Homo sapiens: one gene and its partners. The gene in region 1 interacts genetically with each later gene. Each region holds a gene or a part of one and is shown on either strand. Other genes may lie near its edges. The genes, in order: COPS4, SKIC8, KCTD10, HUS1, ZNHIT6, AURKA and CTNNBL1.

What was found.
Region 2: changes in COPS4 (region 1) and SKIC8 together harm fitness more than expected from each alone (negative genetic interaction), as found in Homo sapiens cells (one large-scale study listed by BioGRID).
Region 3: changes in COPS4 (region 1) and KCTD10 together harm fitness more than expected from each alone (negative genetic interaction), as found in Homo sapiens cells (one large-scale study listed by BioGRID).
Region 4: changes in COPS4 (region 1) and HUS1 together harm fitness more than expected from each alone (negative genetic interaction), as found in Homo sapiens cells (one large-scale study listed by BioGRID).
Region 5: changes in COPS4 (region 1) and ZNHIT6 together harm fitness less than expected from each alone (positive genetic interaction), as found in Homo sapiens cells (one large-scale study listed by BioGRID).
Region 6: changes in COPS4 (region 1) and AURKA together harm fitness more than expected from each alone (negative genetic interaction), as found in Homo sapiens cells (one large-scale study listed by BioGRID).
Region 7: changes in COPS4 (region 1) and CTNNBL1 together harm fitness more than expected from each alone (negative genetic interaction), as found in Homo sapiens cells (one large-scale study listed by BioGRID).

Annotation. Positions count from the first base shown.
Region 1 is NC_000004.12:83,041,050-83,045,668, forward strand, and holds part of COPS4 (COP9 signalosome complex subunit 4), read left to right. Parts: intron 1-4,576; coding exon 4,577-4,619. UniProt on the Homo sapiens protein: Component of the COP9 signalosome complex (CSN), a complex involved in various cellular and developmental processes.
Region 2 is NC_000015.10:78,285,725-78,290,280, forward strand, and holds part of SKIC8 (superkiller complex protein 8), read right to left. Parts: intron 4,376-4,556; coding exon 4,227-4,375; intron 3,989-4,226; coding exon 3,895-3,988; intron 2,659-3,894; coding exon 2,565-2,658; intron 410-2,564; coding exon 317-409; intron 1-316. UniProt on the Homo sapiens protein: Component of the PAF1 complex (PAF1C) which has multiple functions during transcription by RNA polymerase II and is implicated in regulation of development and maintenance of embryonic stem cell pluripotency.
Region 3 is NC_000012.12:109,452,565-109,457,183, forward strand, and holds part of KCTD10 (BTB/POZ domain-containing adapter for CUL3-mediated RhoA degradation protein 3), read right to left. Parts: intron 3,750-4,619; coding exon 3,554-3,749; intron 1,091-3,553; coding exon of another isoform or gene 923-1,090; exon of another isoform or gene 1-922. UniProt on the Homo sapiens protein: Substrate-specific adapter of a BCR (BTB-CUL3-RBX1) E3 ubiquitin-protein ligase complex. The BCR(BACURD3) E3 ubiquitin ligase complex mediates the ubiquitination of target proteins, leading to their degradation by the proteasome.
Region 4 is NC_000007.14:47,972,333-47,976,951, forward strand, and holds part of HUS1 (checkpoint protein HUS1), read right to left. Parts: intron 4,506-4,619; coding exon 4,398-4,505; intron 3,356-4,397; coding exon 3,281-3,355; intron 1-3,280. UniProt on the Homo sapiens protein: Component of the 9-1-1 cell-cycle checkpoint response complex that plays a major role in DNA repair. The 9-1-1 complex is recruited to DNA lesion upon damage by the RAD17-replication factor C (RFC) clamp loader complex.
Region 5 is NC_000001.11:85,701,371-85,705,989, forward strand, and holds part of ZNHIT6 (box C/D snoRNA protein 1), read right to left. Parts: intron 891-4,619; coding exon 787-890; intron 1-786. UniProt on the Homo sapiens protein: Required for box C/D snoRNAs accumulation involved in snoRNA processing, snoRNA transport to the nucleolus and ribosome biogenesis.
Region 6 is NC_000020.11:56,368,890-56,372,409, reverse strand, and holds the end of AURKA (aurora kinase A), read left to right. Parts: intron 1-1,750; coding exon 1,751-1,925; intron 1,926-2,069; coding exon 2,070-2,252; 3' UTR 2,253-3,020; downstream 3,021-3,520. UniProt on the Homo sapiens protein: Mitotic serine/threonine kinase that contributes to the regulation of cell cycle progression.
Region 7 is NC_000020.11:37,777,505-37,782,123, reverse strand, and holds part of CTNNBL1 (beta-catenin-like protein 1), read right to left. Parts: intron 4,471-4,619; coding exon 4,412-4,470; intron 2,938-4,411; coding exon 2,789-2,937; intron 1-2,788. UniProt on the Homo sapiens protein: Component of the PRP19-CDC5L complex that forms an integral part of the spliceosome and is required for activating pre-mRNA splicing.

The DNA of each region.
Region 1 (4,619 bases):
TTTTTTTTTTTGTTTTTTGTTTTTTTTTTTTGAGATGGAATCTCACTCTGTCGCCCAGGCTGGAGTGCAGTGGCATGATCTTGGCTTACTGCAATCTCCACCTCCCGGGTTCAAGCGATTCTTCTGGCTCAGCCTCCTGAGTAGCTGGGACTACAGGCACACGCCACCACGCCCGGCTAATTTTTGTGTTTTTAGTAGAGACAGAGTTTCACCATGTTGGGCAGGCTGGTCTTGAACTCCTGACCTCAGGTGATCCGCCCACCTCAGCCTCCCAAAGTGCTGAGATTACAGGCGTGAGCCACTGCGCCCGGCCAAATTTTTTTAAGGAAGAAAATATTTGGCACTTGTCACATTCTCCATATCAGTCACATTTCTCTTTGTATACTGAGTACTCATATAAAAAGCTATTATTATCTACGAAGCCTTATTTGACAAATCTAGTCCATTTTTGTTTTACTCTCACTCTGTCACAGGCTGGAGTACAGTGGCTCACTGCAGCCTCCACCTCCTGGGTTCAAGTGATTTTCCTGCCTCAGCCTCCCGTGTAGCTGGGACTTACAGTTGTGCACCATCACACTCGGCTAATTTTTGTATTTTTAGTAGAGATGGGGTTTCTCCGTGTTGGCCAGGCTGGTCTTGAACTCCTGGCCTCAAGCGATCGTCTTCCTTGGCCTCCCAAAGTGCTGGGATTGCAGGTGTGAGCCACTTCACCTGGCCTTACTCTCTTTTGAGTTAATATATTACCTCTTCATTTATCATATTGCTTATATTGTTCAGTTTTATCATAACTTTTGTTTTTGTATTATTGTAATTTAATACTTTTTTTTTTTTTTGAGATAGAATTTCGCTCTGTCACCCAGGCTGAAGTGCAGCAGCGGGATCTCAGCTCACTGCAACCTCTGCCTCCCAGGTTCAAGTGATTCTCGTGCCTCAGCCTCCCGAGTAGCTGAGATTACAGGCACGTGCCACCACACCTGGCTAATTTTTGTATTTTTAGTAGAGATGAGGTTTCACCATGTTGGCCAGGCTGGTCTCGAACTCTTGACCTCAAGTGATTGGCCCACCTCAGCCTCCCAAAGTGCTGGGATTACAGGCGTGAGCCACCGCACCTGACCATATTGTAATTTAACACTTGACATATTAACTTTTTATTTTTAATCTTCCCCTTTGTCTTCTCAGCCATATGATCTTCAAATACAAAGGTCATTTAAAAACTTTTTAGTATCATACACAGAATCTCATATAGCATCTTAAAATGCCTAAGGACTCAATTAACACCTTGGGGTGATTTTATATGGCAGTATTAAATTTCTGTTTAAGTTCCTGGTTTAAAACAGGTTTGTTAGTCATTTTATGTTATTCTGAAAAAGTAATCTCTGTTGTTAGATACTAGAATTTACATATTAGAGAAGCAAGGGAGCATGTAATGTAGCCACAGTGCTGTACCTCACTTTTTTTAATTAATTAATTTTTTTTTTTTTTTGAGACAAGGTCTTGCTCTGTCCAGGCACACGCCACCACAGCTGGCTAATTTTTGTAATTTTTTTTTATTTTTAAAATTTTTATTTTTGAGATGAGATATCACTCTGTTGCCCAGGTTGGAGTTGCAGTGGCAAGATCTCAGCTCACTGCAACCTCCACCTCCTGGGCTCAGGCAATCCTCCCCCCTCAGCCTCCCAAGTAGCTGGCACCACAGGTGTGTGCCACAATGCCTGGCTAATTTTTTTATATTTTTGGTAGAGATGAGGTTTTACTATGTTGCTCAGACTGGTCTCGAACTCCTGAGATCAAGCCATCTGACTGCCTTGGCCTCCCAAAGTGCTGGGATTACAGGCATGAGCCACCACGCCCAACCAATTTTTGTATTTTTTTTTTTTTTTTGTAGAGATGAGGTTTCACCACATTGCCCAGGCTGGTCTTGAACTCCTGGACTCAAGTGATCTACTTTCTTTGGCCTCCCAAAGTGGTAGGATTACAGGCATGAGCCACTGCGACTGGCCCTCAATTTATTCATTTATAAAATTGGGAGTTTATGTACACAATTTCTAAGGCCTCTATAAGTTATATAATTTGATGAGTATAAAACTTTGATCACTTTTTAGGTTGGTTTATTTTCATTTTTTCTTCCTATTCCCAATACAGATTAGTTGATTGATTATGAAACTATGTGTTAAAACTTAGGTTAGGCCAGGCACAGTGGCTCAAGCCTGTAATCCCAGCACTTGGGGAGGCTGAGTTGGGAGGATTGCTTGAGTCCAGAAGTTGGAGACCAGTTTGGGCAATGTAGTGAGACCCCATCTCTACAAAAAGAAAAGAACAGTTAACCAGGGGTCGTGGCACATGCCTGTAGTCCTAGCTACTCAGGAGGCAGAAGCAGGAGGATTGTTTGAGCCCAGGAATTGGAGGTTACAGTGAGCTATGATCATGTCACTGCACTCTAGCCTGGGCGACAGAGTGAGACCCTGTCTCAAAAAAAAAAAAAAAAAAAAAAAAAAAACCATAACAACCACAAAACAACTTAGGTTAATTAGCAAATTTATATAAGTGAGACACTATTACCTTTGAATATAATGTTGTTAGTATAAAATAATCTAAGAGGATATAAAAGTAAGAGATCTTAGCAATAACCCTTGATTTAATTAAATATGAAAAAAATAAAAAATAACAAACCATTGAATGTATAACTTATCTGAAAGCATGCCCAGGGCCATAAAGTAATTTATCTTTTAAGGACCCTCAAACTTAGCAATATTGAAAATATAATTTTCTAAAAACTTAATATTTCCTTGCTTTCTTAGAATAATTTATTTCTTCTTTTGGAATTTGCTATCTTTTCTATCCGTATATCTGCTTTCTTAAAGTCACTTTGATTCATTGTGGTTTTGAGAAATCAGATAACCAAGGTTGTGAGAATTTTGTATGAGTTGAGAGTCAGTAATGCTGAGTGGTAGCTTGAGGGTGTGCCCTACAAAATAAAAGTCATAAATCTGAATGAGTTCAGGTTCTATTTTTGTATATTTATTTCGTAACTCTATTCTGGATGACTTTCCGAATAATTGCAATGCTATGAGGTTTGTAAAATGTATTTAGTGCTTTTAAAAAATATTACAATTGGCTGGGCGCGGTGGCTCACGCCTGTAATCCCAGCACTGTGGGAGCCCGAGGTGGGCGGATCACCTGAGGTCAGGAGTTCAAGACCAGCCTGGCCAACATGCGGAAACCCCATCTCTACCAAAAATACAAAAATTAGCCGCACTTGGTGGTGCATGCCTGTAGTCCTCGCTACTCTGGAGGCTGAGGCAGGAGAATTGCTTGAACCTGGGAGGCGGAGGTTGCAGTGAGCCGAGATTGCGCCAGTGCACTCCAGCCTGGGTGACAGAGCAAGACTCCATCTCAAAAAAAAAAAAAAAAAAATGATTAAGACAAAAGAGATAAAGATTAGTATAGGCCGGGCACGGTGGCTAACGCCTGTAATCCCAGCACTTTGGGAGGCTGAGGTGGGCGGATCATGAGGTCGGGAGTTTGAGACCAGCCTGACCACATGGTGAAACCCCATCTTTACTAAAAATACAAAAATTAGCCAGGCGTGGTGGCGCATGCCTGTAATCCCAGCTACTCAGGAGGCTGAGGCAGGAGAATCGCTTGAACCTGGGAGGTGGAGGTTGCAGTGAGCCAAGATTGCGCCACTGCACTCCAGCCTGGGTGACAGAGCGAGACTCCGTCTTCAAAAACAACAACAACAACAACAACAAAAGAATAGTATAACACTCATATACTAACCACTCGTTAAGAAATAAAACATTACTAATACCGTTGAATATTTGAGTGCTTATGATGTGCCAAGAATTGAGATAATTGTCTACATAGCAGAGAACAAAACACAAGAATTCCTGTCCTCGTGGAGCTTGTGTGGTCACAGATATTAGGTAGAATAGTTATTAGATCTGAATGCAAATAAAGAATAAATAGGTACTGTCTGACAGCATAAATGGTATTCTATCAGTGCATTTGGCTTGGCGAAGTTTATTTTGTACAGACTAAGACATTCAGTCTTTAATGTTTGGTTTCGTTGCCTGGTCAACATTATCCTATTGCTGGTGACCCTACATACATTACGTCTGTAAGAGGAAAAGATTCAGGTCACCTCAAATAATGTTTTTGTGTGTCTATGTATTGCACAGTTGAAGGAAATATAGCTTATCTTTTAAGGCATTTGAAAGGAAATTGACTTTGTAGTTTAAATTCAAAAATAAAACCTTCAAGAAAAAGTGACACCTTAGATTCAGTAACAGAATTATAGATTCATTCTTTCTTGTGATGAGCTTGAAAACTTAAAAAATTCTGGTATACTATACTGAAAACTAGATGAAGTGGTACCTTATATAATTATAGATTTAATATCTCTTGTGATAGACTAGAAACTTAAAAAAAAATCTGTGGTATACTATAAAGAAAACCACAAACTATAGTACTATGAAAGAAACCAAGGTATGTAGAAATGAATAAATACACATCAAAGTTTGCATTAGAAAATATAGTACCCTCAGAACATTATTTTCATTTGGTATTGTTGTAGGTATCGTCAGATCCTGGAAAAAGCCATTCAGTTATCTGGAGCA
Region 2 (4,556 bases), on another chromosome or scaffold:
CTATAAACAACATTTTACAAACATTTACATATTTTAAGTTACCATTGGAACACAAGTCTACCTTAGAGTCACTTTGGTAGAAGCCTCAATTTATAATGAAAAAACTAAGAGTTTTACTGTTTAAAAGGATTACTTGTTGACTTTTGTTCCAGCTAAGGTCAACTAACATCACTAAATAAAAATTTTAAGAACTGCAGAAAAGAAAGGCTAACTGAATAAAAAAGGGTCAAACATCTTTAAATGTTAAGGCAATCTATACAAGAAGACTGCTCTCATCTCCCCAGCATTTTAGAAACTGCTAAGAATCATTAAGTACCTGGAAACAAAGTGAGTGTCATCAGGACAGAATGCAACGTTCAGCACCCAGGAGGCATGGCCGCTCAGCGTGCCAGCCAAATTGGCATGTTGTCTGAAATGGGAAAGTTTCAAACAAAATTGAGATGTTAATTTCTACAGTATAATCACTGAAGTGGAAAGTATATTATTAACTCTGCCAATAAGCTGGACCAAATCTGCTATCCTTATAATGACCATGAATACTATATCAAAAATTCCTCTTTCAATGAAGTAGCTTCATGCATTAGAGACAAATTTTAATAGTAGCATTAACCCATAATGTGTTGACACCACCAAAAGCCAAGAATAAAATCCTTCACAAGCAAAGAGCTGAAGCTCAAAATGAACAAAGAACCACACTACAGAGGCTTCGCAAGCCAACCCCTCAGATGAGGAAATTGAGAACCAACGGGGCAAGGAAGCCATCTGAGGAGAAGGGCAGGTTCAGACTCCTGCCTGCACCAGCAGCCTTTCCGTATGGGGCCAGTGCTCCCAGTCCAAGGAAAGTGTCAAGATGTATTCATTATGACAGATGCAGCTTGGAGAGACCAGTTTAAACCTAATCAAGAACAAGACAGGTCTAATTACAACAGCTATTTTCACTTTTTTAATAAAAATGAAACCCAACCACCTCTGGCAGGAGAACCACCATAAGACCTAACTGAGGTCAGCAATTTTACCCCTAAACACAGACCTCAGCAGAGTGGAGCAGACCTCAGTTAGGGGCTAGGGGGCAGGTGGGATACAGTGGGACCATGGGAGGGTAAAAAGTCCTGGGCCTTAGTAAAAAGATCAGTAGTTGATAGGGGCTCAAGGCAGGAGGAAGGGATGATTTGGTAGAGCAGGGGATTTTTAGGGCAGTGAAACTATTCTGCGTGACACTGTAGTTAGGGGTGGCTACACATAATTTTGTCAAAACTCATAGAATGTACAACACAAAGAGTAAACCCTAATGTAAACTACAGACTTTAATTAATAATAATGCATCAATATTGGGTGAAAAAAACATTCTTGGGTCTTCATTCAGTACCACCTCCTTGGGCAAATCAACCACCTCAGCTTGGGTTTCTCATGTGCAAAATGGGGACACTAATCTGTGCTGCTACCTCATTGGTTGCTGGGAGGATCAATAAAACAGTGGCAATAGAAATCATAAAGTCACAAATGTAAGGAACTGCTGCATTTATACTGCCTCTGCCACTAACAGGCAAGTATAACTCTATAGAGACATCTTCCCCTCTGGGCTACAGCACCCTCACTCAGTTACAGTTAAAAACTGCAGTTAGAATTCTATGTCTAGCTGATAACCTTTTGCCAGAAAAAACTGCATTTTAACCAGAAGTGGGCTAGAAGGAGCAGTGTTTCTACTGTGAGGTTTAAACTCCCAAGCAACTATCACAGGCCCCTGAAAGGACACACATGGATGGTCAGGGTTGCAGTACATGCAGGTGGAGGAGGTCTTGGCACCCATGGCTAAGGTTGGAGTGTGATATGTACATGCAGTGGATTAGAATGCCATGTTCGGGAGCAATGAGCCAGAGGCATGCCTGGCAGTGAGAGCTGACCATAGCACCGAGTCATAGTATCAAGAACACAGATCCAACACATTACAGGGGATACCTCAGTGGGGAATAGGAGTCAGGACTAAAAATGATGGGGGAAAAGAAGAAGACATAGGGGTCCGCACAGATTTACAATGACGGCTGTGAATGAAAGAGGATGATTAACTTGCTTCTATACTCGCAGTCAAGGGCCAAAACCAAAAACGCTCCCATCTAGGCCTGTAGCAGGGCGGCTTATAAACTGACTGCTCCCTAACTAGGGCAGAGGCATGTCTGCTAGAACAGCCCTACCCTTGAAAATGGATGCTCTAATTTCTTCCTGTCCCCAGGGGCCAGCTACAGCCCATGGCTCCATTTCCTCATCTGTATATTACTTACCTATCCCAAAGAATTTGAAATCAGTAAGCTCACAAAAATCAGGCTGCCTGAGAAAAAGTAGCAAGTATCTGATCCTACCAGGGAACCCATGCACATCCTCCTCCAAGCAGCCCTTGAGGACACACACTAAAAATGGGCGCTGAACGGGGGAGGACCGCCTGGGGAGTCAAGGTGTCTGATGTGACTTGAGCACAGGTCTTTACTAGGGCTCCTCCCTAGGGCTCCTTGTAACAATAAAGGGACAAGATGGGCATCAGTAGTAAGGGAGATGCCTTTAAGGTAACTTACACATCATAGATCTTGATGTAGCCATCATCTGAAGCAGTGACAAGGAGCTGGGAGTCCGGGGAAAAGGTCAAGGAGCGAATGGGCATGGCATGGCCTGAAATTCATAAAGGCCCTTGTTAATCTGGTGAACCACTGCCTCCTCACTCAGCTTCCCACTGACAATGCCCCTTTTAATGATTATGAGCCACTGAGTTGAAATGCTCAGGTGCTTCAGGCAGAAAAGCAAGAGTTCTGATTGGGCCTTTCCTCTTAATGTTCTCAAAACATCCACATAACCCCAGTATCTCCTCCCAGAGCCATTTCTCCTTAGTTCCCTTCCCTGCCCTCAGCATACATTGCTTTAAATAACTTTTCTACTACAAATATGGCCACACAAGGATATATACATTGCTCCTGATTTGTAAGGTTGAACAAATTAAGGTATTATTTCCCTATCAAATCCTTTATTATAGTATAAAGGATAAACTATAGCAATGTGAGGACGTAATAAATTCACTTGATTAGAATTCAAAACAGCACAACAGTACGCATAATAAAGTCTCCCTCCAACCTACCCCTGTTCTTTAGCTACCCAGTCCTCCTTTCCAGAGGCCACCGGTGTGGACAGTGGGCACAATACTTTCATCCACCTTCAAATTATCAACAAAAAGTTGTTTCCAATCACAAAGTTCATCAGAATCCAAAATAACAGAAATGAGACATTCATATAGCAAATATATATTAACACACACATACATAATGTGATAGATTACGATATAATAAATAAAAAGTAAGTCTGTTCACCCAAACAAGCACTTAACACTGTTACAAGAACTAGTATGTCTAGGTTAAATCTATAGTGACAGGCCAGGTATGGTGGCTCATGTCTGTAATCCCAGCACTTTGGGAGGCCAAAGCAGGAAGAAATCTTGAAGCCAGGAGTTAGAGACCAGTCTGGGAAACAGCAAGACCCCATCTCCTCAAAAATTTTAAAAACTAGCCAGACATCGTGGTGTGCACCTGTAGTCCCAGCTACCCAGGAGGCTGAGGTGGGACGATCCCTTGAGCCCAGGAGTTCAAGGTTACAGTGAGCTATGATCACACCACTGCACTCCAGCCTGGGAGCGAGACCCTGTCTCTAAAAGAAAACAAACAAACAAACAAAAAAACAAAAAAACAAAAAAAACTATAGTGACAAGACTAAAACCTGGAGGCATTTCAGTTTTCCAATTGAGATTGATATTTTGTAAATCTAATGCCCATTTGCCATTTAATGGCATTTCAATGAAAGAATAATTCTTCCTTTGTGATTTGATAACCCAGTTTGTCAAAATAAGATGATGATATATACCTTCCAGGGTATGCAGAAGTTTTCCAGTTGCAATATCAAAAATATTGATGATTCCATCTATGGCTCCACTGGCTAGGTATTTCCCATCAGGACTCTGTTCAGAGAACATATGGAGAAATTAGCACTTTCAGACTCCGTGTTGTTAAGCTGTCCCTACCAAACACAAGCAAACCTCCTGCTATCTACAGGTCTAACTGGCTACTTGGCAAACCACACCAGTGAGACAGCAGCTGCCTGACCAGACCAAGACAGAATCTGTGGCAAGGACTGCAACAGGCTGGAAGGGTAAACTGAAAGAATCAGAAGGAGAACAGAGAGCAATGTTTCCTTACATATGCAATACTAAGAATGAATTTTCCTCTCGTGTCCAAAGAATATTCCTTTTTCCCACTTTCCACACCAAAAATGTTCACTTTCCCGACATGAGTTCCTGTGGCCAGATACTGGGAATCAGGAGAAAAGGCCAAAGTCCAGGCATCCACTGAACAGAAAAAAGAAGGACAAAAATACAGTGTGAAAAGACTTGGCCTTAATTTTAAAAACTAAAGTTTTACCAAAGGATACATCTTTTTAAATCGGAGTAGCAGTGTCCTGATTCAGAAAATTATGTTGTAAAGATGCTAATTCTTTATCAAGTTTAAATTTAGTTTAAGGGTTTCTTA
Region 3 (4,619 bases), on another chromosome or scaffold:
TCTACCCCGTCTTCCTCACTGACACTACAAAGCCAGAATGGGATGCACACAGCAGCTAACTGTGGACTCAGAAGTAAATCATGGCAGGCAGATGGGGGAAACAACAGAATTTGGAGTAATGCCCAACAGTGAGTTTACTGTTTGCTGCTGCCAGCACTGATGCAGCCTGAAACCCTGAAATGGCACCAGGACAGAAGACCTCCAGAAGGTCTCTAGTGGCCAGGGAGGCCAACAGAGTCTAACAGGCAGAGAGGCTGGGAGGAAATCCTGGTTTTCTTTCCTTTTTTTTTAAAAGATATGGGATCTGGCTAATTAAGCTTTAAAATTTTAAGACTTCTCATTTTTAGAGCTTAATAAGGAGCAAGGGGATTTAGAGACCACATGGTCTGATCCCAACTGTTTCTTGATTCACAGACCAGGTTCAGGAGTGGCGTGTTCTTGTGTTTGTGAAGCTGGTTAGGGGCAGAGCCAGGACGGGAGTCCAAGGGCCTCTTTCTTTTCTCTTTTTTGTTTTGAGAGGGAGTGTTGCTCTGTCACCCAGGCTGGAGTGCAGTGGCACAATCATAGCTCACTGCAGCCTTGAACGCCTAGGCTCAAATGATTCTCCCACCTCAGCCTCCCCAAGTAGTTGAGACTATAGGCATGCATCACCATGCCCAACTAACTTTTTGTAGAGATGAGTGTGTTGCTATGTTGCCCAGGCTGGTCTTGAACTACTGGGCTTAAATGATTCTCCCACCTCAGCCTCCCAAGTAGTTTAGACTACAGGCACACACCACCATGCCCAGCTATTTTTTAAAAAATTTTTGGTAGAGACAGGGGTGTTGCTATGTTGCCCAGGCTGGTCTTAAACTCCTGGACTCAAGCAATCCTTCTGCTTTGGCCTCCCAAAGTGCGGGATTACAGGTGTGAGCCACCATGCTCAGTCCTTTTCTTTATTTTCTTGCACCCAGACCTGAGCATTCCTGTGGCAGCAACCAGAGACTGCAGGAGTCAAAACTCTGAGGGAAGGAACCTTCTTTTCTGATGAGAAGAGCTGTGGTCTCAGCAGGATTGGGAGAATCTGGTTGCTTTTTCTATCTTCATGCTCCTGGGCCCAAAATACAGGCATGGTTACAGAAAGTGGGTGGCAAAGGGGGAATAACCAAACCCCCAGCTTTCTGGCTGGCCGATCAGAGAAGGGGACTCCAGGGAAGCTTAGAGAACTGCGGAGAAGAGGAGCTTGAGAAAGCAGCCTGTGAAGTTGTATATGAACTCCTAGACCCACACCCAGCTGCAAGATCTACCCCTAAACTGCATACGCAGACTGAAAGAACTGAATGCTGCAAGAGATACTGCCCAGGACAGACGGGCCACAGCATGGCACACAGCTAGGACAGATTTGAAGGCTTTGAAAATCAAACTGTCACCGCAACTACAAACTACAGAAGGCTGGTTAGAGCTTGCAGCCTGAGCCCAACTGGGTCAATTGCCTGCTAAAACAAAAACATCAATGTTCTCCCTAGGATTTAAACAAGGCCTGGAGTCCTTTAACAATATTCAAAATGTTTAGGATACAATCAAAATTTCTCAATACACAAGAACCAAGAAATTCTCAACTCCTGTGGGAAATAACTCACAGATGCTAGCGCCAAGGTGACACAAGGTTTTGGAATTACCTGACAAAGACCTGGCAGCAGCTATTATTAACCTGTTCCAGTAAGTAAGGGCCAATGCTCTTAGAGCAAATGGAAACATAGGGAGTCTCAGCAAGGAGACAGAAAAACCAAATGAGCACTTGAGAACTGACAAATACAATAACCAACAACCTCAAACAAAAACACAACTTACCAGCAGGGCTCAATAACAGAGTGGAGATGAGACAGGAGAGGAGAGTGATATGGGCTGGGTGCAGTGGCTCATGCCTGTAATCCCAACACTTTGGGAGGCCAAGGTAGAAGGACCACTTGAGGCCAGGAGGTCGAGACCAGCCTGGGCAACATAGTGAAAGCCAGTCCCTACAAAAATAAATAAAATGAGCCAGGTGTAGTAGCATGCACCTGTGGACCCAGCTACTCAGGAGGCTGAGGCAGGAGGATCACTTGAGCCCAGGAGTTCAAGGCTGCATTGAGCTATGATTGTGTCACTGTACTCAAGCCTGGGTGACAGAGCAACACTCTCTCTCAAAACAAAGAGAAAAGAAAGAGGCCCTTGGCTTCCCATCCTGGCTCTGCCACTAACTAGCTTTACAAACACAAGAACATGCCACTCCTGAACCTGTCTGCTAATCTAGAAACAGTTGGGATCAGACCATGTGGTCTCTAAATCCCCTTGTTCCTTATTAAGCTCTAAAAATGAGAAGTCTTAATCTTTTAAAGCTTAATCAATATGGTGACTCTCCTCTTACTACCCAAGGGCAGAGGCAGCCCAGGTATATTTTTAAAAAATCAAACCATGACAGAATGGGGGTCTAATTACAGGAAGAATTCACAGCCCTGAAAAAAAAAAAACAGTTCACAGGAGAAAAGGGGCATGATGTCTTGCCAATGTGGAGAGAGAGGCAGATGATTCTGGTTCACCCCCTGCCCCCGGGATCTTTGAAAGCAAAAAGAACCTCAGTGTTTAGCACTTCTTGGCTACCTTAAGAACAATATCTATTCTTTTAGGATAGATTTTGAATGCTTAGGAATAAAATATGTTGTCAAATTCATCCTGTGAGTGCTGGGGAGGAGGAGTAGATACAGACTGAGTGAGAGTGCCCAAGCTGATGGCCCTTGACGTGGCGTGATGGCACAGGGGAAATCACCACACTATAATTCTGTGTATGGCTTCAATTTTCAATAATAAGTTAAAAAAAAAAAAGACTCTGGTTTCTACTTTGTGATGTGATGATTTCTTCTCATTTGCTTTTTGTTCGAGGTCAGCTACAGAATCATGCAGAACTGTGGCCCCAAAAGCTGCAGGGACAATAGTAACCTGGGTAAGTGACCTACAGGCTCAGGCTCTTAAGACTCCTGTGCAAGGGTGACAAGAGGCATGACCGTCGGCCCACAGCAGACCTGCTGCATGTCACTGGATAGCCAGAATTCCCTTAGACACGTTAAAGAAATGACAGAGTGTATAATGTGAATTAAAAGTTTAAAAAGACAGAAAACCCAATTGCAGAGCCCCAAAAGGGCAGGCAAATTCAATTAAGGGGGGGCCAGATCTCTAGCAGCACTATGCAGAGCAATCCAGCTTTGTGGAACGGCATGGTGGGAGAAGTCAAAGGATAGGTCAAGCCTACTGGTTTGGAGAGGATGATATAAAAACACATCCCCAGAGTCCAGCCCAGTCAGGGAGTCAAGCATGCTTGGAAGGAAGCCAGCAAGGTAGGGAGCTAAAGGAATGCCAGATGAACCCTACATTTGGCTCCTTGCAGGGCCTAAAAGATAAATATTTTAAGGATGAGCAATCACAAGGCAAGCAAAGCATTTTAAAAGCATTTCCCTCTGTATTGGGCTCAAGTGAAAGGAAGTTCTATAGGTGTGTGTTTCAGAACAGCCACTCCAAACTGTCCTCTCGAGGCTCTTACCTTGGTCTGTTTCTTCTCAGTGGCATAGACGATGGAGGTACAACAGACTTCAGCAATCTTCCGGCCCTGACCATAAAAGGACCAGCAGCAGATTTCATCCCCAATAACATCCTTTATGAACAGGACCCTTCCGTTAAAGCGCAGAGACAGCTTATCAAACAGTTCAATGTTTTTCAACATATTGTCGTCAGAATTGCTGCAAAAGAGCATTTGATACGGTGACCACAAGCTGGTAAAAACTGCCATCATTTGCTGGGCCCTTCTACACGCAGGGCCCTACTGAGCCCACTTTCTCCACTACCTCATTTCAACCTCACAATAATCCCATGACAAAGGCACTCCAATCTCCATCACTCAAGAAGGAAAGTGAGGATCAGAGAAATTAGGTAATTGCTCAAGGCTGAACCTAATAAATGGCAGACACGCCCCCCAAAAGACAGCCCTGGCCCCTAAGCCTGAGTGCTCCTAACCATTGTGCTTGAGTGACAGCCTCTGGGCACAGGCACCAGGTGGAGGAGAGCACCTCACCGAGCCCCAAGAGGAGCAGAATGGCACTGCCCAAGGGAGACTCTATATCCTAGGTCTTTTTAAAGATCTTGAGTAACCTGATTAAATCCTCCCTGCATCCCTCAAGTTCCTGAGTTAGAGCCACATGTTTTCAAGGGCCAAATGGCATTCTAGAAACCTGCATATATTGCTGGTGGGAATGTAAAATGGTGCAGCCACTTTAGAAAACAGTTTGGCAGGTCCTCGAATGATTAAACATAGAATTACCACATGACCCAGCAATTCTGTTCCCAGAGAAATGAAAACGTAAGTCCACATAGAGACTTTGCATGAATGTTCATAACAGCATTACACACAATAGCCAAAAAGTGCAAACAACCCAAATGTCCATCAACTGATGAATGGGTAAAGAAAATGTGGTCTACACTGTGGAATATTATTCTGCCATAAAAAGGAATGAAGTATTGATTCATGCTACAACATGGATAAACCTTGAAAACCTCTTAGGTAATCTCATTATGCTGAATGAAGGAATCTGGTCACAAAAGGCCATATATTA
Region 4 (4,619 bases), on another chromosome or scaffold:
CTCTTGTGTTTTCTTCAAATTCCTAAGAATCTCAGTAACAGAACATTAGATTCCAACTCCCTCCTAACCATTAACACCTGGTGCCTAGCACATGGTGGCCTTAAGTCAATACTTACTGAAGAAACTAACAAACAACTAATTCTCTGAACACTGGTCACTCATGTCTATTTTAAGATTCAGTTATTTGGGATATTATACACAACAACACACTTGATTTCTTAAGTATCAGGGTAAGATCTTTCAATGATTTCCTTAAAATAGTCAACTATTGTTTATAGAATGCTGACTATACTGGGCACCTAGTAAAAATTATCTCTAAATTTTTAAAAACTGACGAAGCCCCTGTCATAGCTGCACTGTTATCCCCATTTGGGGTAGTATCCAGCACTAGGGTACTCACTGCACAGCGCAGCCTGGAGCTGAACCCAGGTATGTGGCTCCAATGACTCCCCTCTTCCATATCATGACTCCTAAACATAGACTCTGGTTTCTATCATTAGGTGACCCTGCAGAGCCGTTTCTCAGATAACATTTGAAGTACAATATAGTATGGCAATGATGTGGTTTGTTTTGGCTCAGCAACCCCACCCAAATCTCATCTCGAATTGTAATCCCCAAGTGCTGAGAAGGGGCCTGGTGGTAGGTGACTGGATCATGGGGGCAGCTTTTCCCATGCTGTTCTCTTGATAGTGAGGGAGTTCTCATGAGATCTGATGGTTTTAAAAATGGCAGTTTTTCCTGTGTTCTTCTCTCTCCAGCTGCCATGTTAAGACGTGCCTTGCTTCCCCTTTGCCTTCTGTCATGACTGTAAGTTTCCTGAGGCCTCCTCAGCTATACAGGACTGTGAGTCAATTAAACCTCTTTTGTTTATAAATTACCTGGTCTCAGGTAATATCTTTTTAGCAGCGTGAAAACGGAGTAATACAGGCACACATCACAAAGTACTGCTACATGATGTGGTCTGAAGACAGGCAGCATCGACATCTCCCAGGAGCTGGTCAGAAACAGAGCCTCAGGCTCCAGCTCAGACCTCCCAAATCAGAACCTGCACTTTAACCAGATTCCAGGGGATTCACACGCATGGTAGAACTTAGAAGCAATGTCTTAGAACATGATGTCAATTCCCTCCAGTTCTTGCTTCTTTTTCTGCTCCTGCATGAGTCACATACAACCCACCCCATCAGTCACACCTCGCATTTAATGAAAGGAAGTAACTGGGCATCTCTAATGGGAAGGTGGGCATTTTTAGTGTGTTAAGTCTACCCATTTTCCTTAATTCTACTGCCTGTAATATTCAGATACAGAATTCTGGATACCCAGGAAGACCTCATTATGTACTTTGCTACAGTAACTTGATAACTTTCCATTTAGTAATTCCAGATCGTAGTAGCCTCTCCACAATATTTCTATGTTTTTTTAAACTCCAAAAAAGAGAAAACAAAACACCTCTGATGATTCTAAGCTACCCTTCTACCTCTCTACCTTGCTGACTCATTTTCATTGAACAGAAAGAACAAACAAATGCCATCCTTCAATTAACAGCCCTGTCTTTTCTCTCCTGGGCCTCTCTGAATTTCTCTGGAAGTCCCCAGGGTATCCCCAGATGAAGCCAGCCTGACAACTGGATCAGCATCACTGCAGTCACAGGTGACACCAACGTCAGCACAGTGCACACTGCTTCATGGAAAACAGATTTTATAGATTAAGTTATGAAGGAAAAGCTTTGAGTTACCCAGGTCCAATGACAGCATTGCTCTTAGTGTGCAGAACTCTAGAAAAAAACAGTCAAATGTACATTTTCTAGGCTTCAAAATACTTTTGTGATTTCAAAGACCTCTTGAAGCTAAATTTTGTTCCAGATCCATGCAACACTTATTGCTGCCTACTGAGTGGCAATCCCACACTGGGCAGCTGGGACACAAAGATGATTAAGATGGGGTTTCCTTTATCAAGAAGCTGGTGGTTCACGAGACCTTCAGAGATCTTAGCAGGTGATTTACCATGTACACTGGACAGCTCAGCTCCATGGAGGAGCTTCCAGAGGGGTGGTGGGGAAAGGTCTGTGATGAAGCATGAGAATGGCTAAGTGCCTTCCAGGGAGATGGAGAGAAGAAGCCATGTGTCAAATGGCAAAGAAACTGAACAAAAAAGAAGAGGCATTGTGGGGGAATACCAGAACCCAGCCTCGTTCTGCAGGGAGGGTGTGGCAATACAACAGAGATGTGGCTATAAAGGTGGCCTGGTACACTGTCAAGATCAAAAGTTTATGCTTCATCAGGTGGACAGTGGTTTTTAGAAGATTCAGGGACATAACCAAGGGTGTTTTTTGGAGCAGGATAGGAGGGAGCAGGGGGAGGAGGGAGGGGCAGTGAGTGAAGGAAGAATTCACAATAACCCCAGGTATGAATGAGGATAACCTACACATTTCCCACCACTGTCACACACTGTAACATTTCGAGCCATGTGGCCATAGGAGACTTCCACAAAATAAACAGAAAATAAACAGAAATATAAAAGTGCCCCCTAGCTTGGTGTGAGGTGTGCTTGGAATAAAGGCTGCTATGGTGTGGCATATCTTTGTCCCTGGCTCACTGAAAGACACTTGGCACGCAGACAGGAAACTCCAAACTCACTGTCAGTCATATCAGTGACTCACAGAAAAATACGGGCACGTTAGCAGGTAAAAGATACAATGTTCCAGCCGGGCGCGGTGGCTCACGCCTGTAATCCCAGTACTTTGGGAGGCCTAGGCGGGCGGACCACGAGGTCAGGAGATCGAGACCATCCTGGCTAACACGGTGAAACCCCGTCTGTACTAAAAATACGAAACAAAAAATTAGCCAGGCATGGTGGCAGGCGCCTGTAGTCCCAGCTACTCGGGAGGCTGAGGTGGGAGAATGGCATGAACCCGGGAGGCGGAGCTTACAGTGAGGTGAGATGGCGCCATTGCACTCCAGCCTGGGCGACAGAGTGAGACTCTGTCTCAAAAAAAAAAAAAAAAAAGAAAGATACAATGTTTCATACAAAATATAAGAGGAAAAACAGGCAGATTAAAGGCAAATATAAAAGCTTTCCTCAAAGAATTAGAGTTGAAAAGTATTGGAATAGGTTTCTAAATCCAACTAGCAATCTGCAGGTTCTCAGCACCAGGCCAGGTCCTCATAAGTGGGAACTCGGTTAGGAGGTGCCCACCTGCATGGACTGCTGCAGGGTGAGCTGGAGAACCCACGCCGTCCCACCAAATACTTCAGAGTTCTTTTCTAAAGAAGTTGTGACTTACAAGGTGATTGCTGATGTTTTTCATTTTTTCCACAACACTCTTCATAGTCTTCAAGACTGGTAAATAAATACTAACCTACAAAACCAATGAGAAAAAAGCACAAGTATTAAAAATATTAATATACTCTAGTAATGACAAGGGCCCCATAACTAACTCTAGAACACATGCATGCTCAAAAACTATGGGATACTATTTTACAATTTTCTGAATAAAGTTCTTTTAAAAATATAAAAAGAAAACCAATTCTATTTCACTAACTCAAGGATGCTCAAGCAAAATTAAAGAATGGAATGCCTGCCTCTGGTTACCTCAGCAACCATGTCCCTGTGGGCATTCTTTTGGCTCAAGAAGGAATAGGGTACTTCAGCTGAGATGCCCCTATATTGGTCCAGGGGGAATATAACTCAGGCAATCAGCAGGAGGCCCTCCTCTAAGGGACATTTACACCTATGATTCAAGGGCCTTTTCCATGCTCTGTACAAAAACATGGCAGACAGTCACTGCATCACATCTGAGACTGTTACCAAGAGTGCTCTATAAAACACAGGCTTTTTCAAAATCAGTGTAGGTGCCATCTAGTAAAAGTCAAGTAATTATTTTACCCAGCATATTTCTGTACTTTCTTCTTAAACAAATTGTGAGCAAGAGGAAATGGGCCCTTTGGCATCATCTTTACTTTCAGGAGCTCTAGGGTTAACCATCGGCATGACCGTTACCCCATGTTAGCCCTAAGCCATGAAATTCTTCTCTTCTTGGCTTTCGTGCACATCCAGATATCGCTCCTGACCGGCTGAGGAAAAGATCAAGTCCTGTGAAACCCAAATTGGTGTCTAAGGCCAAGAATACTAATAAATACTAATTGTCCTCCAAAAGTATCATTTGTGTTTTAAGTGATGTTACTGAGCGAGACATTTTCTACATATAGGATGGCATGACATTTCTATCATATGCAACATTTTTAAGATGCTTTATGTAAATAACAAAAGGCAAATAATCTAATGTTTTCGTTAAGTATCCTTTAAAAATAAAATATACTGCAAGACTACAACTAAAACTAGAGAATTCAAGTCATGCCATTTAATGTGGGGTGTACAGCAGGACTGCAGGCATCACCTACATCAGGATCTGGGACCACCGGTTCTTGTAAGTCCTTCCACAATTTCCTAGGAATCACCTTTATGGGGATGTCATGGGTCACAATGCGGCTACTGCTTGACATAGATAACTGCCAAGAAAAGAATTTAAAAATATTTTTATGTTGTTAATATTAAGCAACAACAAAACAAACCCGAAGACCCGGGACAAAAAAGTTGAAATACCAAATCTAAGTGGAATGCTG
Region 5 (4,619 bases), on another chromosome or scaffold:
TCAAGTTTTTAAAAATTCTAAATCCAAAATCTTGACTTCTGAAAGGTATTATCTGATAATTTAGTTGGCTACTTAAAGAACTTTGGGATCCTGTTCTCTTCTGTACTCTTGGGGCCTTTTCAACCCAACATTTTCAGACAGCAGCAAACTAATCTCTGTTATATTATCTGTACTCAAGAGTTCAAAGTCCCCTTCTTCTACATTGACAGCTTTTAATTGAAATCTTATTTGGAAACCCAGTGGAGAAAGAAAATAAAAGCAGAGCTGCCTTGATTAAAACAGTACAGGCGTCCTGTTTTTACTCGTTTTGTCCTGGAAGCCCCTGAAATACTTTCTTGGTATCTTAGTTCTCAAAGAAACAGTTTATTTCTAATGTATGAGAGTGTTCCAGGGCGCTGCTACTCAAAATATGTTTCTCAAACAATGAGCATCATTGAGGAGCTTGTTAGAAATGCCCAATATCAAACTCCAACCCAGGCCTACTGAAAAATCACAACAAGCATACTTAACAAGATGCCTAGGTGACTGGTATGCACATTAATGTTTGAGAAGCTTCTCAAATGATATGAAGACACACACACACACACACACACACGCACACACTGCAAACCCAAATTTTTATTAGAGTTACATGACATACAATTACTACAGTTATCTTGTCATGGACCAATAACAAACAGTTTACAGAACCACACTTGGGGTAGCAATGCTCTATAGCAACCAAACCTTAAAGAATGATCCTGATCAAATCAGAATACCTGATATACTAAAAAGTTAGAAACTTACTTCTTATCAAAAAAGGTTGAATTCTCCTTCCTCTTGGTGAATCCATTGGGTAGAAGTTTTAAGTTAATACCTTGCCTCCGGGCACGATTTTTCATAAAGTACATCTAACAACAAAAACCAAACAGACAAATTAATTTTTAAATTCCTTAAATTTAAAAAGTGAGTAAAACAATGTTCAATAATAGTTAAGATTTACTGAGAACCTAAGTGTTACAACAGCTCTAAGCAGTAATCTCATGTAATCTTCACCATGATACTATGAGAATAGGTACTATCATCTCCATTTTAGCAATAAAAATTAGTGAGATCCCAACATCATACAGCTATCCCAGAGAGATAGAACCTGTATTCAAACCCTGGTCTGTCTAATTCCAGAGCTTGTGTTTCTAACCATATGTTCTGTGAGCCAAAGAAGAATTTAATGGAGATTAAACAAACAAAAACACAGGTCATTTGGCAATCACGGGGGCTACCTACACAATTCTTGATTTCTTTTACCGATGGTTTTACCAGTTAGCTGTATATATATATCACTGATTTTATTACTAGACAGCTCACTCAAGGGAAGAGCCAAGGCATTGCCTAGTACAAGGCCTAGCTTAAAGTAACCACTGTTGTGGGAAGCACAAAATGGGATATGAGAACATTCTGGCTCTGACATGTGTTATTACATTGACCACCTGGGTTGATTAAGCTAAACTGGGCAATTCCAGAGTTATGAAGGAAGTAATACCAGATTTTTATTAAGTCAAGGAAGAAGAAAGATCACTCAAATAAGAGGCAAAATATAAACGCAAGTTTTTTGTTAAGTGAATAGGGATCTAGAATTTGCAATGTAAACAGTCAGAATCAAGTCCATAAGCCAAGGAAAGGATGGGTCAGCTATCATTGGCTAAGTAGGAAACTGTTTTAAGAAATTACATGTAATTTTATAATTTAGAGGACTTTAGTTTCAGTAATGGTAGTGATAATTATAATAATTCTAATAGCAGTGACCAACCCTCCTAATATACCTTCAGGATAAGGGTGAACCAGAAACAATCTCTACTTTTAGAGCAAGCTAGGAAACTTGTATGGTTACACTGAAACAGAGGAAAAAAGAAAAAAAATCCATTAGCAGTTATGGCTATGGACCATCCCTTGCTTAGATTTGCAATTATTTTGCCTTGAAAACAGCACTGAATAGCCATACTCTAGAAAAAAAGTGGGAGGACTTAATCAGATAACAAGTTTCAGTAAAAAACCACAATAATTCAGAGAGCATAGTATTGGTGCAGGATATACCAGTAGGCCAACAGAATGGAAAAGACAAGGCCACAAAATGACCCAAGCATATAGGGATGCTGATATATGACAAAGGTGGTCCTACAGAGCAATAGGGAAAGGATGAACTTTCCAATAAATGGTGCTGGGAAAAGTGGATTATCTATATGAAAAATTAAATGGGAACTCCTCTGTATATGATACCAAAAATCAATTCCAGTTAAAGACATAAGTGTAAAACACAACAGTATAAAGCTTTTAGGCAATAACTATAAAAGAATAACTTCCTAACTTCAAGGTAGAGATGGATTTCTTTATAAACATATAAACCTACTAACTATAAAGGAAACAAATGATAAATTTGACTACATTAAAACTAAGAACATCCATTCACCACAAGACACTATAAAATGAAAAGACAAGACAAAGACTAGAAGAAGGTATTTATAACATACAACCAACTTGCACTAGCATCCAAGAAATACCAAGAATTCTCACAAACCAGTAAGAAAAATAAAGCTGACCAATGAAAAGATGAGCAAAAGACTTGAACAGGCACTGCATAAAAGAGGAAATCCAAATGGCCAATAAAGTATTTGAAAGGTGGTTCAATCTCATCAGGAATTAAAGAACTGCACATTTAAAACCACAATAAAATTACAAAGCCAACAGATTGACAAAAATTTTTAAAGTCTTACCAAACTAAGTATTGGCGAGAATATGACAATAGGTACATTCATACACTATTGGTGAGAGTGTAAACTAGTACAATCACTTTGGAAAATGTTTTGGTAACATCTAGGCAAATTGAAGATATGCATACCACACAACAAAGCAATTCTATTCCCAGGTATAAACCCTAGAAACACATGTTCACACACATACTATAATTCATAGACAAAAGTAGTGGCATTGTTTCTAAACTGTTTTTTATTCTTACAGAAAATCCAAAATCCATTAAAAAAATGCGTAAACAAATTGTGGTACAGTCCTAAGATAGAAAAAAATATAAAGAAATGAGAAAAGATCAGGGAAGGGCATAAAAGGGTGGCATGGAACTTCTGGGAAGCCAGTAATGTTCTAATTCTAGATTGGGGTGGTAGTTAAATGAATATTCATTTTATAATTATTCATTATACTGTGTATTTCCATTTTGTGATGTTTAGAAAATATACTTGCTATATTTCACAATTTAAAAAAAAATTGTAAAGTAATTTATCTTTAAGTAGAATTTTAATTATGCCTAATTAAGTTTGAGGAAAAATAAGAGTTGCTATATGAATAATTTTCTTTCAGATATGTGTAATGTAATTATGTCTGTACCAATAATACCAATAAAATAAGGTGTTTAAAAGGTATTAAAATTCTGCAACTCCAATACTAAAATGAACACAATTCCAGGATACGATTTAATCACACCATAAACAAATTTCTACAACACCAGTTGCCAAATATTCCAAATATGTAAGCTTTAATTTTGCATAGTATTTAAGGAATTAAAAAAGGAATGCAAGAGTATGAAAATTAAGTGTATTAGAATAGCAAGTCTTGTTAGCTCTTCCTTCAAAATCGCAATCTAATCCCTTCCCAATAATTCAAACAGTACACCCAAGCCACTATTATCTCACAAGGATCATGGGAAGAGCTGCATAATTGGTCTCCCTGCTTCCAATCTTCCATTCTTGCCCCGCTAAAGTTCACAAAGTGCAAGAGTGGTTTTTCAAAAGGCAAATTTATGTTCAAAACCCTTCCATGGTTTCCATTTGCACTTAGAATTAGAAACCCTCACCAGTTTCTTTTCTTTTTTCTTTTGAGACAGAGTCTCACTCTGTTGCCCAGGCTGGAGTGTAGTGGCGCAATCATGGCTCACTGCAGCCTTGACCTTCCTGGGCTCTGGTGATCCTCCCACCTCAGCTTCTCAAGTTGCTGGGAGTACAGGGGCACGCCACCACGCCTGGCTAATTTTTGTATTGTTTTATAGAGACGGGTTTTCACCATGTTGCCCAGGCTGGTCTTGAACTCCTGAGCTCAAGGAATGCTCTGGCCTCAGCCTCCCAAAGTGTTTGGATTACAGGCATGAGCCACTGCACCCAACTCCTCACCAGTTTCTCTAACTTCATTTTCAATACTCTCCTCCTCACTCACTATGCTTCAGTTACCTTGCAAATCTTTTAATTCCTCAAACCAGACATCCTTGTTTCTGACTCAGGTCTTTCCTTTTACTTTTGTCCCTACCTGGGATAATCTGCCTCCAAATGTTCACATGACAGCCTCTTTCTCAGCACTCAGATCACTGCTTACACATCATCTCTTTGAGAAGCTTCTCCTGACCACTGTATCGAAAATAGTACCCTGACAATCTCTCCCCAACAAAGACCATTTTCATTCTCTCTTTAATCTCTTGAGCCTTCTTTATTTTCTATATGAACTTAACTCTATCTGAAATTACATTTGTTCCTCTACTTATCTCCTATATCTCCCACTAAATACAACTCCACGAGGGGACGGACTTTGTTTGGGTCACAGCCATATCCTTAAGTAATCAGAATAGCTCTACATCATGGTAGCCA
Region 6 (3,520 bases), on another chromosome or scaffold:
CTTCTTGCTTTTTGAAAAGATTACTTACATAACCGATAGTCACTTCACTCCAAATCCCAGATGTTAATCATCATCATTTCCTGGTTATTGCCTCAGTTTGAGAACCCCCGATTCAGTCCGTCGGTGCTGATGGAGGGGTTAGATGACCAGAGTGGTAGCTTCTTAATCCTACGTCACAATTCAGTGGTGAGTGACTGTTTGTGTGCTCAGTGGGTGCCAGGCCTGGCTGAACACAGCACCAGGGCTGTGACCACGTAAGCCTCCATGGTGAAGAGCAGCTGATAACAAAGCAACACGAACCCACACAGACTGTTCTGGCTTGCTGTCTGCTGTTCCCAGCTTTTTTCCAACCTTCGTTAAAAAAACCTAAACCGATAAAAATGCGGAATTGGTAGTTGATGGCATACCTGTCTATACAGTGCCTACGTTCAGCAGTTTTTCCCATTTAGTCAGAAGGGCTGCATCTGCTTTTTTAGTGAACACTTGAAAATACGTTGCAAACATCATGATGCTTCAACCTTAAGCACTATAATAGAATGCATTTCCTAAATAAGGATATTCTCCTATATAACTAGAACCATGATCACTCCTAAGAAAATTAACAGCATTGTCAGTATCTAATATTTAGTCCACATTCAGATTTCTCCTATTGTCCATGACATCTTATAGCTGGTTTGTAAAATCAGAACTCAACCAAAGCCCATGCTTTGTATTGGACTGTCTATGTGGTTGGATTGTCTCTGTGGTTGGACTGTCTCTGTGGTTGGACTGTCTCTGTGGTTGGATTGTCTCTGTGGTCTAAAGCCAGACCAGTCTCCCACTTTAAAGAGGACTTTTCTGATTGTGTTGCCACTTAACTTGGACCTTTATTCCCCGTATTTGCTGAAAACTGGAATGTAGGTCTCAGGTCCTGAAGAGATTCAGGTTAAGAAAATTTTTTTTTTTTTTTGAGACAGAGTCTCGCTCTGTCACCCAGGCTGGAGTGCAGTGGTGCGATCTTGGCTCACTACAAGCTCGCCTCCCGGGTTCACGCCATTCTTCTGCCTCAGCCTCCTGAGTAGCTAGGACTACAGGCGCACACCACCACACCCGGCTAATTTTTTGTATTTTTAGTAGATACGGCGTTTCACCATGTTAGCCAGGATGGTCTCGATCTCCTGACCTCGTGATCCGCCTCCCTCGGCCTCCCAAAGTGCTGGCATTACAGGCATGAGCCACTGCACCCAGCCAGGTTAAATATTTTTGGCAAGAGTACTTCATAGGCCACCCTCAAAATTTCAGCATCACTCGTACCAAGTATCTATCACAAGGCAGCATGTGTCTACATCTCCACCCCAGTGCTGTTACAGTGGGACAGTTTCTAGTGTATTGTCATTGCGACCAGGCTTTTAAGATTCTTAGCATATCTGTAATATCCACATGCAGATGTAGAATCCAAATCGTATTTACAGAGAACTTTGCATGGCAGCTTTTATATGGTAGTGATACATTCAGTTTCTTACATTCTAGATTATTCAGGGAGGTTCTGGAGTTGGACAGATTTGGGGTTAAGCCTGATGGCTAGCTGTGTGACCTTACACACCTCGCTTCATCTGTTTCCTATGGGAATTTATAATAGTAGCTACTTCCTAGGGCACAGGATCTGGCCCAGGGGAAGACCTCAGTGTTAGTGGACTCTTTAATGATTGTTAGCAGCTGTTGTGATCATAAAACGAGAAGCACATCAACCTGAGCCTCCCTCCGTTTTCAGGAGGACCACTCTCTGTGGCACCCTGGACTACCTGCCCCCTGAAATGATTGAAGGTCGGATGCATGATGAGAAGGTGGATCTCTGGAGCCTTGGAGTTCTTTGCTATGAATTTTTAGTTGGGAAGCCTCCTTTTGAGGCAAACACATACCAAGAGACCTACAAAAGAATATCACGGGTAAGACGCAACTGAAAAGGACCCAGCACATCTGCTGGAATTCTTTCCTTATCAGCCTGAACTGCAGGCCAAGATCCGAACATCTATACTATTTGATCTCTCTAACCTGTGTTTTGTGATATTTTATCATTTGTTGTACTCCAGGTTGAATTCACATTCCCTGACTTTGTAACAGAGGGAGCCAGGGACCTCATTTCAAGACTGTTGAAGCATAATCCCAGCCAGAGGCCAATGCTCAGAGAAGTACTTGAACACCCCTGGATCACAGCAAATTCATCAAAACCATCAAATTGCCAAAACAAAGAATCAGCTAGCAAACAGTCTTAGGAATCGTGCAGGGGGAGAAATCCTTGAGCCAGGGCTGCCATATAACCTGACAGGAACATGCTACTGAAGTTTATTTTACCATTGACTGCTGCCCTCAATCTAGAACGCTACACAAGAAATATTTGTTTTACTCAGCAGGTGTGCCTTAACCTCCCTATTCAGAAAGCTCCACATCAATAAACATGACACTCTGAAGTGAAAGTAGCCACGAGAATTGTGCTACTTATACTGGTTCATAATCTGGAGGCAAGGTTCGACTGCAGCCGCCCCGTCAGCCTGTGCTAGGCATGGTGTCTTCACAGGAGGCAAATCCAGAGCCTGGCTGTGGGGAAAGTGACCACTCTGCCCTGACCCCGATCAGTTAAGGAGCTGTGCAATAACCTTCCTAGTACCTGAGTGAGTGTGTAACTTATTGGGTTGGCGAAGCCTGGTAAAGCTGTTGGAATGAGTATGTGATTCTTTTTAAGTATGAAAATAAAGATATATGTACAGACTTGTATTTTTTCTCTGGTGGCATTCCTTTAGGAATGCTGTGTGTCTGTCCGGCACCCCGGTAGGCCTGATTGGGTTTCTAGTCCTCCTTAACCACTTATCTCCCATATGAGAGTGTGAAAAATAGGAACACGTGCTCTACCTCCATTTAGGGATTTGCTTGGGATACAGAAGAGGCCATGTGTCTCAGAGCTGTTAAGGGCTTATTTTTTTAAAACATTGGAGTCATAGCATGTGTGTAAACTTTAAATATGCAAATAAATAAGTATCTATGTCTGTGTGGAGTGCTGTGTAATTCTTTCCACCATCTGTTCATTGTTGGCCTGGAAATGAGCAGGGGCTGAGAGGAGCAGGTCTCGCCCTCATCTAGTCCTGCCTCTTCTGGTCTCTCCTGTTGGGTGTACTCCTAATACTTCATTATATATATTGTTTATATATTTGTCATATCTTTGTCATCTGTCCATCGACTAAAGATACGGTGAAAGTGACTGTGATGAAGGAAAAGTAGAAGTGTTGAACTTAGAGCTAGTAGAGAAATCTGCTTGCATGGCCAATGCTCAGTGCAAGAAACTGGACAGCAGGTATGTCAGGATATGTCATAACAAAGTGGCCAATATAGAGAAACTTAAAAACATGACTCAGTAAAACTGCAGCTGCCAGCCCCCTTGGGACAAAGGGGCTTCTGGTTCTCATAGTCTTGAGCTGAACTGACTTTGACCTTCCCAAATAGTTCATGTGCCACCCTCCCAAGCTATAGTTATTATCACGTGACTGAC
Region 7 (4,619 bases), on another chromosome or scaffold:
ACATAGTACCTTAGCAGTGTTTTGCAACTGTAGAATTCTCCTAGATACTTTATATAGTTTAATTCTGCCAAAATACCTGTAAATTTGGTATTATTAGTGCCGGTTTTCAGATGAAAAACTGAGGGTGAGAAGGTCACAAAGGTTAAAGTAACTCACCAAATATCCAGAGCTAGTAAGTAAAAGAGCATGTTCCAAACCCACACTTACAAGTCCCAGGCCCATTCTTCCACCCTGCTCCATACTGCCACCTCTCCATGTGGGCATTTCACAACTGTCTGATGAATGACTGAGTCAAAGTAAAGATCTATATTTAGGGGCAATGGAACCACAGAAACTTTCCTGAACTTCTAGTGTTACAGCTTCATAGTCTTGAATAGGCTCTCTCTAGACAAAGAGCCACCTGGCAGCTCTTACTAGAAGATCAGAAAGGGTGACTATAGTATGGAAAAAAAATTCCATCCCAATTAAACTTTCCATTTGGGAGTCTGAAGAAAAATAACACAGAACAAAGAGTATGGGAATGAGAAAAAAGGAAATGCTGAATCTGCTAATATAGCTAATTAATGCCAAAGAATGAATGTAACAGCAACTTCAGCATTCAAAAATGAAGTTAGGAGATCTAGAGAGGTACAGTTTCTAAGTTTTTTGGAGCTCTCCTTTAATTAGCCTCCCTGAATCTCAGCATTCCTGTTTGAATAATCCATATTTCTGGTTATTTATTCAGCTCCCCTCTGCTATGCAATACCTAGCCATATGCTGCAGAAATATATCACTTCATATTTGCACTCAACCAACCAAAGACACTGGCAATTCAGACCTTTAAGAAGCTTAAGGAAAAGTCCCTTCAGAACATTGTGTTAAGGTTAGAAGATCCAAGAAGCCAAATGTATCTTCTATTTATGCTATTTACTTGAGAGAAGGTGGGTCATTTCAACAAAAGGACAAGCAATTAGAAGGGTAAGGGAGATAAACAAAAGACTCAAGAGAGTAAAGCTAGCAAAAATCAGCTAAACACAAAAGGCCTCTGAGTAATTTCTCATGCTCCTCTCTGCATTTTTTTAAAAATTGTTTTTAAAAGCAATTCCTCAAAGGAAGACTTTTGGTCAATGCAAGGTCTGGTACACACTGGACAAATGAAGAGGTCTACTGTGCCTCCAGCCCCCCAGAAGCCTTTTAAAGATAATATATTTTAGAAATATACACAGTAAGTCATCACTTAACATCATAGATAGACTTGGAAATGGCAACTTTAAGTAAAACGGGATATAGGAGGTCAGATCCTCAAATAACACCGTTATAACAATGATCAGAAAAACTGGTTTCATTATACATCATTTCGCTTAAAGTTATGGTTTCCAAGAATGTTACTGATGATGTTAAGTGAGGACTTACTGTACCTGGATAATCCTAACATCATTTTAAACACAAAAATGGTCACTGTAGAATTTGTTATAACGGCAAAACATTGGAAATATCCTCAATGCCAACAACAGAAGAATACTAAGTAAGCTACAGTCCCTTAGAGGCCATGATGCAGTTACTGAAAACTCTCATGAAGATTATTCACAGCATGGGAAACAGCATCTTATGTCTGAAATGTAGCAATACAGAAAATCCTATGTGTGGCAGGCTTAAAAAGTTGTTAAAAATTATAGAAAAAAAGACTAGAAGAAAATATACACCCAAAGACAGGCTGTGTTTAGCTCACAGAACTGTTTTCCTAACTTTGTGGAGACAGAAATTCTGTCTTAGGTATTTCTGTGTATGCCCAGTACTTAACATAGTACCTTGTCAATGTTTTAATAGCAGTTTTATATGTTAGTATTCTAAATTCTATTTAACAAATATATATCACATTTATGAAAAACCTTTCCAAAGAAATATCTTAGTTCAACAGAACTTTCAGTATACTTGAAGTTTTAAGACAGCAGACTCTGGCTCCATTTCTTTTTTTCTTGTTTTTTTTTTTTTTAAATCTCAACTTGCTCCTCTGTAGGGCACAATTCATAATGACTAGAATCTTCCAACCACATAAACATGCTCGATTTTTTTTTTTAAGTCCCTTGACCCTATACCACAGTCTGGTTATCCCCTCAGCCTTCCCCCACACACTTCTCTACTCCCCTTCCTAGACAGGGTCTCAAGAGTTATCAACATAAGCTTCCTCTCCCCTTTTTGCTTCTAACTTTAGGATTCTATAAAATAACTGTGAAACTAATATAAGATCCACTTTCAGGAATTAGCGTATAAATAATAAGACACACAAGGAAAGTACTATAAATAAAAGTTTCTAGAACTGTCTTGCACGTTTTCATATTTCCTAAGCTAGGCATACAGCACATGTACAACTCATTACTGAATGAGGAGTGAAAAATATGAATGATACGCTGCTTTCAATAAAAATACAAACATATGGCATAGATAGGTCTATGTGATATATACAGAAAATTAGTCCAAGTTTAGAAGTAATGGCTAGATTTCCCCAAAACTAACACACTATGGGAAGGAGAGGAAAAACACCAATGTCCTTCAATGGAGTGGACGTATTAGCAACCACCACAGTAGGGCACAAACAGAACACAATATACTTTTTATTCATCTACTCTAACTTTAGGAAAGACCACATACCTATACAAACACATCCCCCCATGCCTGAAGACTTTACTCTTCAGGGTAAAGTCTAGGAAACCCAACAGAATAAATGATCATAGCTACATGCTCTTGAATTCAGGCTAACAGTGAAAAGTCAGGCAAAAAAGGTGGGAGAACTAGGGCATTCGAAACATACCTGAGCATGAGATTCATCAGCTGAAGACCCTCGCCCTTCAGGAAGCGCTCACGATTGGAACTAAGCATTAGACAGGAGCAGAGGGAATCAAACAGATTCTCCATCATCTCCTGCTCCTCAGCCGTGCTGGGATTGTGTCTTTTAAACACCTGTCAAGCAAAAACAGCACAAAGCACAGAGCTATAAGAGAATGTCTTTTCATGAGCCTCCATCCAACAATTCCTAAAACCTGTGGGTCATAACTCTACGACTGAGGAAACAGAAGCTCACCAAACAAAATTCTCATCAGTTTCCATTTTAGAGAAACTAAATGATTCACATATATTAAATACATGCAAAAAAAAAAGCCAAAACACTCTACTGACCACTGGGTCCATCAGTAATTGACAGTTCCAGGCAAGCAGATTTTTTTAAAAACCAAAACCCAATAAAAAACAAAATCTTTTTATCGTGAAATATAACACAGATACAGAAAAACTCCATAAAGGACATATAAAACTAAATGAAGTGAACACCCCTGAAATCATTATCCAGGATGAGAAACAACTTTGCCAACTCCCCTCAAAGCCCTCCACTTGCCCAACCCAACCATATCTCATTTCTTTCCCTTCTAAAAGCAACCACAATCCAGAGGGCTGAATCGTGGCTCAATATAAGGAAGCATTTCCTGACAACCAAGGCTACTGAATTCCCTCACAGGGGAGCTGGGGCTTTAATTCATGGGAAGGGCTTACAGCATTAGTTTTCTTTTTGCCAGAGATGTAAGGCATGTTAAGAGAAGCCTTTAAACTGTATATGCATACCCATACAGTCTACTACAAGAAGATCAATAATCTCACAGGAAAAGGACTAAGCACCTTCCCAGAACTGGAAACAGATTCACATTTCAAAGCTCTATTTTTGGGGTGGAGGCCAAGACACTCAGGCTGCTGGCACCAAGATGGAAGCTGTATGCAAACTGACATCTCAGACTCTCCCAACACTCTTAAGATTTTATCCAAATGATCTATTTTCAGTCCTGTTTTTAGAATAACACAGCTAAAACTTGTAAGAGGAAATCTTAACAGTATTTTCAGAATGCCAGCAGAATAACATTTCAACTGGATTTACATTTCTTACAGTGAGAAAATGGCAGTTTCCAAGTTCTCACTCCAGCCTTCAGCACCACATCCTCCCCTATCCTCCCCTTGACCCCCACCCCACTGCAGTGGAACTTGTACTCCTTGAGCTTATTCAGATCCTAAATGAACATACTCCATTTTCACAGCAGATTGAAAGGAAGGTTGGTGAATAATCTTGGCAGTGGGTCAAATGAAAATAATTTGGTATGCTTGGCCCAGAACATACACACTTAAGCATGAGGCACATCTTTTTTGAGTTGACAATATCATATCAGAAGATGAAGAAAGTTCAGAACTGATACACAGTGATGTCTGGTCATAAAGAGCAAATGACTAAGAAAAGGAGGCAAACCATGTCCCTCCGTATAACCCTCAAACCTGCCAACATGCTCCATATGGCTTGCAGCACATGGCTTATTCCTTCCCACAGTTTCCAGCTCCACCTCCCATTCAAAGCAGACCATGTATCTTACAGCAGACAGGAAGCATAAGAATTACTCACGGATAACTGCTGAAGAAGCACATCGATTCCATCCAGCTCCCCAAGCAATTCCCTGTTTTCTAAAGGGGAAAAAAATAGAGGAAGAAAAAAAATGAACCTAACTGTCAGATTTTACAGCCGTCTAACACTGATACATCAGCAAACAAAATCAATACAGCTTGACAGAGTACAAAAGCAGCACAGGGAGTGAGAGGGAGAGCAAGGGGAT